Homo sapiens: one gene and its partners. The protein of the gene in region 1 interacts with the protein of each later gene in a pairwise test. Each region holds a gene or a part of one and is shown on either strand. Other genes may lie near its edges.

Region 1 (3,500 bases):
GCTTGTTCTCAAGCTGCCCGAGTTATCTTGGAGGAGAGAATCACAGGAAATGTTTGATATTTCTAGTAACCAGTGTTTTCAGTGCGTGGGGTAAAGCACACTCCTAGACTGGCCAGTCCCAAAGAGTGTGGCAGGACACCTGCTTGTTTTCCCTGCCCTCTGCTATGGTGACATCCTTGCAGACCAGTCTTGCGTGGCTGGCAGACGCAATCTTTTTTTCTTGGGTAGAGCATTATCACCGCTGCGATGGAAGGACCTTGTCCTCGGTGCCTCCATACCAGCCCTTTCCAGTGAAACTACTGCTGTCCCGGCAAGCCCCTGTGCGTGTGCATCATTCCGGGTAGGACAAGATGTGAACAGGTCCCTCTTCTTTGGGCTTAAGTAGAAGTTGTGCTCTTCTGCTTTTACCTGTGTGCTCTTCTGCTTTTACCTGTTCTCTTCTGCCTTTCTCTTGCAAGAAACCTGTCGAAAGCTTGCTTTGCATGCCATTGCTTAAATACTTTGATGGTATGTATGGTATGTGGGATAACTGAGTGGGAGCCGGAATTGGGGGGTGGGCAGGGCATCCCCACCCCCACCCCCACATCAAAGGGGGAATGACCATTTCGTTAGAGAATAAAGCCTGAGTCTTATAACTTCTTCAAGCACATGTATGCTGGGTCTCCTGGCGTGTGAATGTGTTCCCGCTGTGCTGTGTGGCTGTTTTGCAGTTACTGTAGACACTGTAGTCTGGGCTCTCATTATTGCCTCTGAAGTTGACAGGACCAAGCCTTAGTAAGGATGCACTTGTCTTCCTAGCCCAAGAGCTAGGGGTGTTTTATATATATATTAACTTTCTTTTTTAGATTTCATAAACTGCTCTCATTTTCTCTTTTCTTTCTTTCTTTTTTTTTTTTTTTTTTTGAGACAGTCTCACTCTGTCACCCATGCTGGAGTGCAGTGGCACGATCTCAGCTCACTGCAACCTCTGCCTCCCGGGCTCAAGCAGTTCTCTGCCTCAGCCTCCCAAGTAGCTGGGATTACAGGCACCTGCCACCACGCCTGGCTAATTTTTGTATTTTTTTTTTTTTTTTTTTTTTTTTTTAGTCGAGACGGGGTTTCACCATCTTGGCCACGCTGGTCTTGAACTCCTGACCTCGTGATCCACCCGCTTCAGCCTCCCAAAGTGCAGGGATTACAGGCGTGAGCCACCGCACCCAGCCTCTGGCTCTTTTCTTTTTGACATGAAATCTTAAGTTAATTATCTTAAACTTTAAGAACTAGAAGGATTCTTAGTCCAGCACCATCAGTTTACAAACAAAAAAAACTTGTGTCCCTGAGAAGTTGTGACTTTTCCAGGGCCTCCTAGCCAGGATACCAGTTTGGTTTTTATTATATAGCTAGCCGAGTAATACTATTAACTTGACTTCTGGGATTTCAAAGTATTCTATGACTTGACTGTTTAAGGGAATTATGAGGCCTCACTGAACCTCAAAAGATAATTTTAGGTACCATCCTGGTAGCTGTAGAGCAGCAACAGACCAGTAAAAGACTTGGTTGGTGTTGCCCTTCTTCTGGGTTTGATTACATGAGTAATTGTGTGAATAGTCTCTAAGTTGTATGCTCTGAGCTTTCGTTTTTAGCTTATAAAAGTGCTACTCTTGGGCCAGCATAGTATCAGAAATTAGCTAATTCATATGGGGCAGTTTAGGCTTTAACTAGGAAATGATGGTTATCTTAATGACAAAAAAGGTACTGACAAAAGTCCTTTTTTGAACATGTGTTCAAAAGAAAAAGAGAAACTATCAAACTAATAACTGAGTTTGTTGAACATCGAGATTGACTGATCTGAGAGGCTTAAAACTGATTGCCCTGAAATAGACTTGCATGTTTTGGATGATGGCTTTGGGTCTCCCAGAGCACTTGGTTTCCCTTGGTGCTGATTTTTTCTCTCAGGATTAAAGCCCCTTTATGTGATGTTGTTACAGCAGCTTATTGCAACTTCATTCAGCTGCTTGAAAAAGAAGGGAGACTGCCTCTAGGTTCCATGTGTTCTTTCAGGGATGGTATTTTGATGTTGCGTATTCTCTTGAACATGTATTCTTCCCTGAGAATTTCTGTGTGCCGTGGTAGAAGAAATACTTGCCAGAAATCGCCACTCATGGTATGCTTTTGTAGTGTCGAAGTGTCCCCTAGAGGTGACAAGGCTTGTGATAGTGTTGATTCTAACAAGCATGAATCTTTCCTTTATTTTAGCACTGTGTGTTACGTGCCAGTAATTTGCAGCTTATCCTTTGTTTCTAGCTAGGTAAGCTGGGAAATAGCCTAGTACTTTGTCTATGTGTTTATCTTCAAAATGTCCCAAATAGCCCTGGGAAAAAGGTCGTGCAGCTCAATGGGGGCTTTCAACTTACAATTTTCTTTGTTTTAGGCTCCATAAAAATACAGACTCACCAGTTCCTGCTTTGATGTGACATGTGACTCCCCAGAATACACCTTGCTTCTGTAGACCAGCTCCAACAGGATTCCATGGTAGCTGGGATGTTAGGGCTCAGGTAAGTAACCTTCCTTTTTTTTTTTTTAGTATATGTCCTGGTTTGGCCATCTGTTTTTTTTTTTTTTAAAAAAAAAAAAAAAAGGAAAAGAGGAAAAAAATATACTACTCTTGGACAGTATAAAAGTACCCCAAAGACTAAAGACATAACTGTGCCAAACTGTGCCATATAATAAAAAAAAGTCACTTCCCTGAGCCCTGAAAGGTCAGTGTGTGTAGGGTTACTTGGTCGCCACAGCGTGATCTGGGGGCGGGCGTCAGATTAGAGCCGGAACTGGTGATCTGCAACTTCAGTTCACCTTGAAGCAGGTCAGCTGAGCTGAGAGCGCTTGCACTGAGCCCTTTTGCGCTGCTGCTGTTGCCTTAGCGGTCTTCAGCATGTGTTTGCTTTGGTTTGGGGTAAATGGCTTAGTGGTCAACATTAGTGAGCAGTGGTAATGCATTTTCAGATATGGGAACTGGTATGTGGTTGGTTCCCTAGAAGGACACCCTCCTGAAAGCTGTCTCAGAACACCGGGGGCCATGGCTAATGTCATGTGCTTGCTACACTCCTCCCATGGTAACTAAAGAGAGTACCCAGATATACATCTGGTTCTTGGGACTCTAGAGGAGGATGAGTACTTTGTAAAAACCTGGGGGCCCCAGTCATTCTAGGTCTGACACTCAGGTGCTGTATCAGCTGCAGTTTGAACTACTTGGCACCATTGTGTGGACTTTAGTTTTGTAAAAATGAATGGTTCCTTAATTTCTCAACCTTCAGGCTCAACATCTCAAGCTGTTTGTTGTTGTTGTTGTTGTTGTTGTTTTGTTTTGTCTTTTTGATTAGTGGTCACTCCGCATTTGATGTTTTGACATGTGGATTTCAGAACTTCTGTGTGGTAAAGCAGAATGTTCCAATTGAATTTTCCCATTTTTTTTCCCCTAAGCAAAAATGTGAGTTTTCACTTATGCGGCCATTGTGATTCCG
Region 2 (3,500 bases), on another chromosome or scaffold:
GAAGGGCCTGTCTGCATGCCAGGGGGCTGAGTTCCATGTTGTAGGGGGTGCGGTGGGGTGGCACCAAGGGACATAGGCAGGTTAGATGTACTTTTTAGGAGGAAGGGGTCAGAGACCAAGGGCAATGGCTGTGAGCATGGGGCCGAGGTCACCTGACGATGGTGGCCTGACCCCTGCGGTGGAGGAGAGGCAGGAATGGAGCTACAAGAGTGGGTCCAGGAGGTGTCCTCACCTGCGGGGAGGCCGAGAGCTCCTCGTAGGCATAGGGCACACCTGACCAGCAGAACCCACAGCTGTGCCGCAGAAGGAGATAGAAGCCCCGTGGTGGTTTGATAGAGCTGGGGCTGGCTGGGGTGGCGGGTTTGTTGTATGCATTTTTTACTGCACGTAAAAGGCTTTACTGGGGAAGAATAGATTTCCTCTCTTTTTCCTGGAAGAGCCGAATGACTTAGACAATGGAATAGAAATGTAGGTCGAGCGTGTTCATGGAAGTGTTAAGATCTTCCTGGTTACAAGGGCACACACCTGAGGGGGAGTCACTTTGTTTGAAGCACCTGAGCGAGGCTGTTCGCTTTGTCCATTCTGGCTTTTGTTGCTTGTTAAATGAGGCTCCTTCTGTTGCAGAGGTGACCACAGTGACAGTGGCCAACGTGGGGGCTGCTGCAGACAATGTCTTCACCACGTCTGTGGCGAACGCGGCATCCATCTCAGGACATGTTCTGGTAAGCTGCTCCGAGGGGCACAGCCCAGGGCGGGTGGTGCCACGCTGGGGGCCTCCGGCTTCCCCGAGGCTCTCCCGGGGTTCAGCCCGCTGTGTGAACGTCTGCTCTGTGAGCTGGGGAGGGACGCACTGGCTCGCTCTGCTCTCAGAGGCCTTCGGGCTGTGCTGGAGGTGGGAGAAATTACAGCTGAGGTAGAAGCTGCCTCGGAAGGCCAGGTGAAGAGCCACACCTGTCAGATGGGCTTGTGGCCTGCGTTGGGCAGGGACTCCCAGCAGGCTGCTGTCCGGCCACAGTTCAGCCTCTGCCCGAGGCCCGGCCCTGCCTGTGCTCCTTATCCTATAGCTGCAGGGCCAGCTGAAAGAAGCAAGGCGTTTCCCTCCCCCATATCCTGTTCTCGTAGCATTTATGGTGCAGTCTCCCACGCCTGACTGCTGTCTACTTAGAAAACTGCTGAAAGCCAGTTGCATTTCAAATAGTGTCTGTGCCACCTTCAGAGCCCTTTTGTGATCATGTTTTATCAGCTTATTTTATGTTTTATGTGTGGGGCCTTCGGCGATCTGGGGACATCTGGTCAACCAGGGCAGGCAACCTTGTTTCCAAGTGGCAGATGCCAGGGTGGGTCCAGTCTCCAGAAAGGGATTTTCCCTGGGACCATTGGCACCTGTTACTTGTAGTCTTTTCAGCCTTGGTCACATACCTGGGACATCATCTCCATATACCTGAAAGCAGAGTGGTTATTTGTTTGTTTTGTTTTTGAGACGGGGTCTTGCTCTGTCACCTAGACTGGAGTGCAGTGGTGCAATCTCGGCTCATTGCAACCTCCGCCTCCTGGGTTCAAGCCATTCTTGTGCCTCAGCCTCCTGAGTAGCTGGGATTACAGGCGTGTGCCACCATGCCAGGCTAATTTTTGTATTTTTAGTAGAGACAGGTCACCATGTTGTCCAGGCTGGCCTCAAACTCCTGACCTCAGGTGCCCGCCTTGACCTCCCAAAGTGCTGGGATTATAAGGATTATAGGTGTGAGCCACCACACCCGGCCTGAAAGCACAGTTATTGTTAGAATGGCAGCAAACAGAAAACTTGTGAAGGACTTCAGTAAAAACATAAGAAACTTGGAAACCCCCTCCCCTGCCCTCCCCTCCCCTGCCCTCCCCTCCCCTGCCCTCCCCTCCCCTGCCCTCCCCTGCCCTCTCCTCCCCTCCCCTCCCCTGCCCTCCCCTGCCCTCCCCTGCCCTGCCCTCCCCTCCCCTCCTCTCCCCTCCCCTCCCCTTCCTTTTTGACAGAGTCTTTCTCTGTTGCCCAAACTGGAGTGCAGTGGAGTGATCTCAACTCACTGCAACCTCCACCTCCTGGGTTCCCCATGTTGTCCAGGTAGTCTCAAACTCCTGACCTCAGGTAGCTACCATCTCGGCCTCCCAATGTGCTGGGATTACAGGCATGAGCCACCGCACCCAGCCCAGAAACTTGGCTTATTTCTGGTGGGTGTGAGAACACACACAAGCTGACCCATGGCCACGTGGCGATCTGTGTTTTCAGTCAGGCTGCTCCTTCCTGGCAGTGGGGTCTGGGCACCTCCTCATTTCCTAGGAGGGGCTGAAGCCCAAGGCACCTGTGGGTGCCTGGAACGTGCTGACGTCATGGAGCGGGGGTGTCCTGCAAGTGCCTGAGGCTGGTTTTCTCCCCTCCAGGCCAGGAAGACCAGAGACTGGTGTGTTCCTGTTTGGAAACTGACAACAAAGCGGGGCACGGTCTGAAATAACTGTGTGTTCCCTTCCTAAGAAAAATACTCTGTGACTCTTAAACAAACACAAGACATTCCTTTTCTCCAGTGAAGAGCTGCAGGTCTTTGGTGACTCAGGCACAGCAGTAGGACCCCCTGTGTGAGCCCAGGCGTCAGGCATGTGTGTTGGGGGTCCCTCCACTCCATGATAAACTTCTACTCAAGTGCTCTGATTTGACAGTGACATTTTCAGATGTAGGAAACAGTTGTCAGCTGGGCGCGGTGGCTCCTGCCTGTAATCCCAGCACTCTGGGAGGCCGAGATGGGCAGATCATGAGGTCAGAAGATGGAGACCATCCTGGCTAACACGGTGAAACCCCATCTCTACTAAAAAAAAAAATGCAAAAAATTAGCCTGGTGTGGTGGTGGGCGTGTGTAGTCCCAGCTACTTAGGAGGCTGAGGCAGGACAATAGCGTGAACCCGGGAGGCGGAGCTTGCAGTGAGCCGAGATGGCGCCACTGCACTCCAGCCTGGGTGACAGAACGAGTCTCCGTCTCAAAAAAAAAAAAAAAAAAAAAGAAAAAGAAAAAAAGAAACAGTTGTTTTCTCACTTTGCCTCGGTTGGTTTTGTATTCAGAATGAAAACCTTGGGGCACCCAAAACACGGGGTTCAGAGAGGCCCCTGGAAGTCTCTGGTCTGCCCCACCGTGGGGTGAACAGAGCCTGCAGGCCAGAGTTTGCCGGATGACTTGGCCAAGGTAGGGTTCAAGTTCCAGCAGTGGTGTGTGGGCATGGAGACTCTGGCTTCCTGTGGCGGGGTCTGTGCCGCCTGAAGGCTGATTTTGGAAGCAGGCAGCAGTTGCAGCAGCTTCAGCCAGTGTGGAAATGTGGTTTTGAGGCCCTGGTCTCCAGTTGCCATCTGTAAGGAGGTCTGGAGGGCGGTCCTGCACAAGGCCTTGTCTGTGGCGGCCAACTCGGTCTGTTGGAAACTCTGCATGAAGACGGTGACCTTGTGGGAGCGGCTCAGGTGGAAGGGAGGGTGTTTCTTGTTTGTGGAG
Region 3 (4,086 bases), on another chromosome or scaffold:
ACCTCCTCAAAGGAGGTACTTTGAGCAGAGACCTACGTGAATGGCATAGAGTAGAGCTGGCTATATGACCCCTGGGGAAGCGTTTTCACCAAGAGGAAACAGCAAATGGAAAGGCCATAAGATGGCAGTGTTCTTGGTGTATTTGAGGAAGAAAAAGAAGGCCCACATGACAGAATTCAGGGGAAAGTAAAGGAGGTCAGAGATCTACCTCCAGGGACTAGATCACAAAAGACCTTGAGAGTCATGGTAAAAACTTTGCAATGTAACTACTGGAGGAGGAGAAAACAAAACTTTGTGCTCTTAACTACAAGAAAAAAAAATTGATTTAAAAAAAAAAAAAAAAAAAGGACTAGGAGAAAACATGCCAAAACTGTTAATAGCAGTTTCTCTCTAGGTAGTAAGATTACAGATTTTGTTTTCTGGTACGTCCTAATTTTTCTGAATTTTCCCTATTTCTAAAAATGAATATGTATTACTTTGATACACACACAGAGAATAATGTAATTTTCATAATCCAAAGATCTGAAATTAAAAATATGAATTTGCCGGGCATGGTGGCTCACACTTGTGATCCCAGCATGTTGGGAGGCTGAGGCAGGTGGATTACCTGAGGTCAGGAGTTTGAGACCAGCCTGGCCGACATGGCGAAACACCGTCTCTACTAAAAATACAAAAAAATTAGCCGGGCGTGTGGTGTGCACACTTGTAATCCCAGCTACTCGGGAGGCTGAGGCAGGAGAATCACTTGAACCTGGGAGGCAGAGGTTGCAGTGAGCCAAGATTGTGCCACTGACTCCAGCCTGGGCAACAGAGTGAGACTCGGTCTCAAAAAAAAATGAGTTGATGAAACTTTTCCAGGATTTCAGCATTTTATCTGCTGCCAAATTGTCAGAAGCCAAAATCTCAAATACATCTTAGTCTACAATTAGACTAACTCAGGTTCTTGGGAAGTAGGAGGATTTCCAATGTGCAACATCACCTAGGATTTGGTAGACATAAGATGGACTCAAAAAGCTTCCCAGGTGATGAACATGGATATCTGGGTTAAAAACCACTGTTGAAGATTCATCATCAGATATACCAATGCCTGAGAACTTGAAATACAGTCTGCCATAACAACTAAACTACCAAGTAAGGCTATGAGAATCACATCTAATTCATCTTTGAATCCCCAATGCCTGGCACACTGTTTATACGTAATACGGACTCAACAAACCTTTGTTGGAGAAATGATCCCCAAACTCAAATTTCCTGCTAATTTGGGTAAGGCAATCTTAGAAACACTCTAAGACAACCTGGAAGATGGGAGATCAATATGATACATTTACAGAGCTTTAAGAACCACCTGCATACCGGCTGTGGTGGCTCATGCCTGTAATCCCAGTACTTTGGGAGGCAAAGGTGGGAGGATTGCTTGAACCCAGGAGTTCAAGGCTGGTCTGTGCAACACTGGAGACCCCATCTCTACAAAAAATACAAGAACTAGCCAGGTGTGGTGGCACACACCTGTAGTCCCAAATACTTAGGAAGATGGGTGGGAGGATCACTGGAGCCCAGAAGTTCAAGGTTGCAGTGAGCAATGATCCGCCACTGCACTCCAGCCTAGGTGACAAAGCGACACCGTCTCAAAAAAAAAAAACAAACTCTGCAGTTACCAACAATAGCCAGAGCACTACATTACCATGAATCAAGTCAAATGTTAAGTCTCACATTAATCTAGTCAGTAAGTAAAAGAAGAATCCCTGTCTGTATTACCAAGTAGTGACAAAATTGACATATATGGTAGCTTTATTCTATTTAAATAAGGTACGCATAGAAAATTCCAAATTTCGCCACCACCACCACTTAACTCAATCATTCATCAAATTCACTTCCAGCTCTGAGGAGCTACTGGTATTTCATCTGACCTGTGGTAAAGTCCACAAAACACATCCTCCTCTGGTCCTCTCAGCTAACTCACCTGGGTACTTAAGTTTTCAAGAACAAGAGAGTCCAAAGCTATGGTGGAGAACACACAGGTTTTCCCGGTGCCAGATTTAGCTTGAACAATTAAATCTGCGAAGGAAAAAAACAATTATCACTAGCCAGTACTCACTGAAGCAACTTAGGGGCTAACATGGAATCAGAGAACTAGAAGGGTCTCCTGAGATTCCCCTAGTTGGCACCTTCATTTTTAGTTGATTCTCAAAAACGTATGAGAACACGCCTAGTCCCTGAACGTTTACCGTTTATCTTCTCAAACTTAGAACCATTTGTCAGTGCTTAAAAAAAGGTCTTAACTATCCTCAAGTTCAATAGTGCACGTTAGTTTTACAAATAAGTTAACTGAGCGTAGCGCCTAGCCCCCGGCAGGGCCCTGCTCCGGGGGCCGACCGAGGGCTCTTCCTGAGCTGCGGCGCGGGCCTGGCCGCCGCCGCCCGTCGGTCCCCCTTCTCCCACCCCACCCCCCGACCTATCCCGGGCCCCCGCTCTCACCGAGCCCGCAGCGCCCCAACGGGATGGCCTTGAGCTGCACCGGCGAGGGCCTCTCGAAGCCGGCCGCCCGCAGCCCCTCCAGCACCGGCCGCGAAAGCAGCAGTGACTCGAAGTCGGCCGGCTCCGCCAACAGCACATCCCCCGTGCGGGTCCGCGGGCTGCTGAGATCCTGAGCGGTCCGCAGGATCCTCACAGGCCCGGGTGTTGGCTCTGGGGCCGGGACCTGCACGGCCACATGCTCAGCCGGCATAGCAGTCGCCACTGCTGCTAAGGCTCCCGAGGCTTCAAATGCCGCCGCCATGGTAGCCGCGCCGTCAGATCTCGCGGTGCTTAAGGGGAGGCGGGGATCTTGGGAGCGAGAAGAAGAAAAACTTTATTGGCAGTTTTCCCGCGAAGACACTAACACGCCCGGCCTGGAAGTGGAAGAAAGGGACGGGAGTCGGAGGCTGAGAGACTGCCCAGACACACAAAAAATGTGGCCTGAGGAAAGCCCCAAGAGGGAGGAGAGGAAAGATGAGGCAACTGGTGAGTCGCTGCCTGTGGCCTGCAGAGGGCGCCGCGGGCCTGCGGTGGGGGCACCGCCCCGCCTCTCGGCCCTCTTCTGGGCGGAGCCGCCCAGCCGTGCCCCCGGCGCCACCGCCCTCTCGCCGTTCTTTGTGATGCGCCCGGTGCGTCACGCCCCCGTCTCGTGCTTCCGTTTTCCGTTCCGCTGGCCTGTCTCGCTTCGCGGCCACCTCTTCCCCAACGCTACCCGCTCCGTACCCTGACTCGCTGCTCCTCTGTGCTGGCAGAGAGCGCGCAGAACGTAGCTGGACCCAAGGGTTTATTTACCACATTGGCTGGTGTGTCCATCTGCTGTGCAACCACATTTATCTCCGGTGAGATAAACCCCATTTATCTCCTAGCAAGTCCCTGGCGCACAGTGAGCTCTGATAAAAGTACGTTGAATTGGAACCTGGAACTGGACTAACAGCTCCCAAGTTCGTATCTCCGCCTCAGATCTCCTTTTAAACTCTAGACGTGTGCATCCATCTGCCTCCATGCATCCGCCTCCATGCATCCGCCTCCGCATCCGCCTCCATGCATCCGCCTCCGCAGCACCTCCCTTGGGATGCCTAATAGACTCTCAAATGTTACATGCCTTCTGTATTGCTCCTTCCCCCATCATTTCATGCGTAGGCAGCTAGCAGTCTCTGCCACTTTTCCTTGCTGTGGTCTTCTGCTCAAATATCAGCTTTTCAAAGAGGTCTTGAACACCCTAAGACAGCTCTGTCATCCTCTCTGCTCCCTGGCCTTTCCCAGCACTCTCTTGTTTTGCTTTATTTTTTCTTTATGATACTTATACCTACCTGAAATTATATGTCTTCTGCCTGTCTCCCACACTCTATGAGGACAAGAACCTATTCTGTCTTGTTCTCCTCTGCATCCCTAGTGGGAAAAACAATCTGACACATAGGAAATGTTCAATATTTATCAAATGATTGAGCTCCTATAACAAACTCTTAGTCATCATGCCAAATTTAAATATTTCTGGACCTCAGCCATATTCATAATTCCAAATTTAGTTGTGTGGGGTGGCTCGCACCTGTGATTCCAGCTTCTTGGGAGGCT
Region 4 (3,500 bases), on another chromosome or scaffold:
TGGTCTCACACTCCTAGGCTCAAGCAGTCCTCCCACCATGGCCTCGCAAAGTGCTTGGATTACAGACGTGAGCCACTGGGCCTGGCTTTTTTGTTTTTGTTTTTGTGTGTTTTTTTGAATGTGATAAAGGTAGTGGAAAAAAAAAAAGACACTTGCCTGTGCGTGGTGGCTCACATCTGTAATCCCAGAACTTTGGGAGGCCAAGGCAGGTGGATCACCTGAGGTCAGGAGTTCGGGACTAGCCTGGCTAACATGGTGAAACCCCATCTCTACTAAAAATATAAAAATTAGCCGGGAGTGGTGGCGCACGCCTGTAATCTCAGCTACTTAGGAGGCTGACACATTAGAATTGCTTGAACTGGGGAGGCAGTGGTTGCAGGAAGCAAAGATGGTGCCACTGAACTCCAGCCTGGGCGACAGAGTGAGACTCTGTCTCAAAAAGAAAAAAAAGGATTCTTAAGATACACATTAAAATATTATAGATGAAGCTGGGCACAGTGGCTTATGCATGTAATCCCAGCACTAGGATTAACATTTTTTCATAATAAAAAGCTTTTTCTAAAACTATAGAGACCTTGTTGAGAACAGCACTACAATTTTTTTCTTGTTTTTTTTGGATGGGGACAAGGTCTCACTCTGTCATCCAGGCTAGAGTGCAGTGACGTGATCATGGCTCACTGCAGTCTCGACCTCCTGCTTCAGCCTTCTGAGTAGCTAAGACTACAGGTGTGCACCACCACACCTAGCTTTTTAAAACAAATTTTTGTAGAGAGGATCTCGCCATGTTGTCCAGGCTGGCCTTGAACACCTGGTCTCAAGTGAATCCTTACACCCCAGCCTCCCAAAGTTCTGAGATTGCATACCTGAGCCACCATGTCTGGCCTACAGTTTCTTTTCTTTTCTTTTCTCTTTTCTTTTCTTTTTTTTTTTCCTTTTTTTTTTAGACACAGGAGTCTCGCTCTTGTTGCCCAGGCTGGAGTGCAATGGTGTGATCTCAGCTCACCGCAAACTCTGCCTCCCAGGTTCAAACGATTCTCCTGTCTCAGCCTCCTGAGTAGCTGGGATTACAGACATGCACCACCATGCCTGGCTAATTTTTTGTATTTTTAGTAGAGACGGGGTTTCTCCATGTTGGTCAGGCTAGTCTCAAACTCCCGACCTCAGGTGATCCGCCTGCCTTGGCCTCCCAGAGTGCTGGGATTATAGGCGTGAGCCACCGTGCCCAGCCAGTTTCTTTAGTAATTCATTTCTGTGACAGTTACCACTGTGGGGACATTTGTTCTTGCATCAAATCACTGTTAGTTAAGGCTATTCATGTTCTGTCCAACAGCTTGGCACCAACACCTGCTTACTTTCCTTTTCTCTTTTACCCTCTCTTCTCAGTTCTCTCTTTCCAGACGTAGTGAACTGTATGCAGACTGACAATCTGGAACTAAAGAAGCTTGTGTATCTCTACTTGATGAACTACGCCAAGAGTCAGCCAGACATGGCCATCATGGCTGTAAACAGCTTTGTGAAGGTAACTTTTCCCAAGGCCTCAATAACAGAGTTTGAATTGCAAATAAGTAACCTCTGTTCACAAGGAAGGAGTGTAGGGAAGTGTTGGCAATGACTAGGAATGTTCATGTTTTAAGCATTCTGTATACCAGTGTGTGTCATCCAGGGAAATTCAAACCATGTGCTGAGCTTTCTGTTAGTGGGGCTTGGTGCATCCTTGCCAGATGGGTAGAAGAAAACCTGGTGAAACCCCACTGTTTTACCTTCTGAGGCTGACAAAGGTGGGCATATCATTGTACTATCAGTAATTGGGGGCTTTACCTATTTTATCTTTGTAGAAATTATACTTATGAGTCAGCAGTAGTGGAGACTGCCGGAGTTTCTACTTTCATTTCATTTAATACGTCTTACATCATTTGATTAATTTTTTTTTTTTTTTGATACAGAGTCTCACTCTGTCACCGAGGCTGGAGTGCAGTGGCACGATCTTGGCTCACTGCAACCTCTGCCTCCCAGGTTCAAGTGATTCTCCTGCCTCAGTCTCCCAAGTAGCTGGGATTACAGGTGACCGTCACCATGCCCAGCTTATTTTTGTATTTTTAGTAGAGACAGGGTTTCACCATGTTGGTCAGGCTGATCTCGTGCTCCTAACTTCAAGTGATCCACCCACCTCAGCCTCACAAAGTGCTGGGGTTACGGACACAAGCCACCACTCCCGGCGTGATTAATTTTTTTTAATGGAAAATTTTAAACATATTCAAGAAAAAGGACTAGTATAATAAATTCCTAAATATCCGTCTTGCAGTTTTAACAGTTACCGACACATAACCACTCTTGTTTGTAATCCTCATACATATTTTCTGACCTCCAACCCCCTCTCCTGCTGGATAATTTTAAAGAAATCCTGAACATCATATATTAAATAGTTTTGTCTTTATATTTGTCAAGATAAGATCTTTTATTTAAACATAACCACAATATCATCATGTCTTTAAAAATGGACAAAATATTTTCTTATTATTGAATATCCAGTCAAATCTTTCCTATCATAGATTTAAAGAAAATAATAATGGGATCATTCCCATTAATTTTTTTTTTTTTTTGGTGACAGAATTTCACTCTTGTTGCCCGGGCTGGAGTGCAATGGCGCAATCTCAGCTCACCACAACCTCCGCCTCCCGGGCTCAAGTGATTCTCCTGCCTCATCCTCCCGAGTAGCTGGGATTACAGGCATGCACCACCACACCTGGCTAATTTTGTATATTTAGTAGAGATGGGGTTTCACCATATTGGCCAGGCTGGTCTCGAACTCCTGACCTCAGGTGATCCGCCCACCTTGGCCTCTCAAAGTGCTGGGATTACAGGCGTGAGCCACCATGTCCAGCCTAATATTTTTTTAATAGTTGTTTTTTCTCTGTTTGGAACTTAGTGTACATTTAAAAAAAACAGACAGCATTTCTAAAATTAGCTTCTATTTAAAATGTTTTGAAAAATAAGCAATATGCTTTCTTCTTTCTCATGAACTTTTTGTTCTTTTCCTGTGTTTAGCTACATTATAGAGTCAGAACGTAACAGTTTGTTCTCCATGACTGGTGGTTCATAGAGGGAATATATCATTGGGAAGAATTTAGTTTACATTTTTTGGAAGTTAGAGTTGTGCATAGATTTACATGGGCTTAAAGACATTTTTTTAGTGTAAGGCAGTTTAAAAGAGTGTTCTTTCTCCATATTCTATTTACTATATTTGGAAGCACTTGCTAGTAAAAGAGAATGTATGTTAGCCAAGAGCTCAGAGGGCCTTCTCTGCTGCTTAACTCCAGGTACTTATTTCAAGCCCAGACCAGCTCCTGTGCTCCCCTTTGTTTTCTTGGCTGCAGGCCACAGAAATCTAGCTCTCTTTTCTATTTGATGTTTAGGAACTCACTGTGGAGTAGGGCACGGTCTTTACAGCTCCTCTTTTTTTTTTTTTTTTTTTTCCTGTGCCGGAATACAAGCCCAAAAGC

Evidence for each region. Proteins that work in one complex are often made in the same cells at the same time.
Region 2: the proteins of MECP2 (region 1) and DEAF1 interact in binary tests that used the Homo sapiens proteins (3 or more experiments, as listed by UniProt).
Region 3: the proteins of MECP2 (region 1) and DDX20 interact in binary tests that used the Homo sapiens proteins (3 or more experiments, as listed by UniProt).
Region 4: the proteins of MECP2 (region 1) and AP2B1 interact in binary tests that used the Homo sapiens proteins (3 or more experiments, as listed by UniProt).

What each region holds. Positions count from the first base shown.
Region 1 is NC_000023.11:154,091,218-154,094,717, reverse strand, and holds part of MECP2 (methyl-CpG-binding protein 2), read left to right. Parts: exon of another isoform or gene 1-340; intron 341-1,168; exon of another isoform or gene 1,169-2,508; coding exon of another isoform or gene 2,509-2,534; intron 2,535-3,500. UniProt on the Homo sapiens protein: Chromosomal protein that binds to methylated DNA. It can bind specifically to a single methyl-CpG pair. It is not influenced by sequences flanking the methyl-CpGs.
Region 2 is NC_000011.10:688,723-692,222, reverse strand, and holds part of DEAF1 (deformed epidermal autoregulatory factor 1 homolog), read left to right. Parts: intron 1-624; coding exon 625-722; intron 723-3,500. UniProt on the Homo sapiens protein: Transcription factor that binds to sequence with multiple copies of 5'-TTC[CG]G-3' present in its own promoter and that of the HNRPA2B1 gene. Down-regulates transcription of these genes.
Region 3 is NC_000001.11:111,754,615-111,758,700, reverse strand, and holds the start of DDX20 (probable ATP-dependent RNA helicase DDX20), read right to left. Parts: upstream 2,801-4,086; 5' UTR 2,777-2,800; coding exon 2,476-2,776; intron 2,056-2,475; coding exon 1,961-2,055; intron 1-1,960.
Region 4 is NC_000017.11:35,604,322-35,607,821, forward strand, and holds part of AP2B1 (AP-2 complex subunit beta), read left to right. Parts: intron 1-1,383; coding exon 1,384-1,519; intron 1,520-3,500. UniProt on the Homo sapiens protein: Component of the adaptor protein complex 2 (AP-2). Adaptor protein complexes function in protein transport via transport vesicles in different membrane traffic pathways.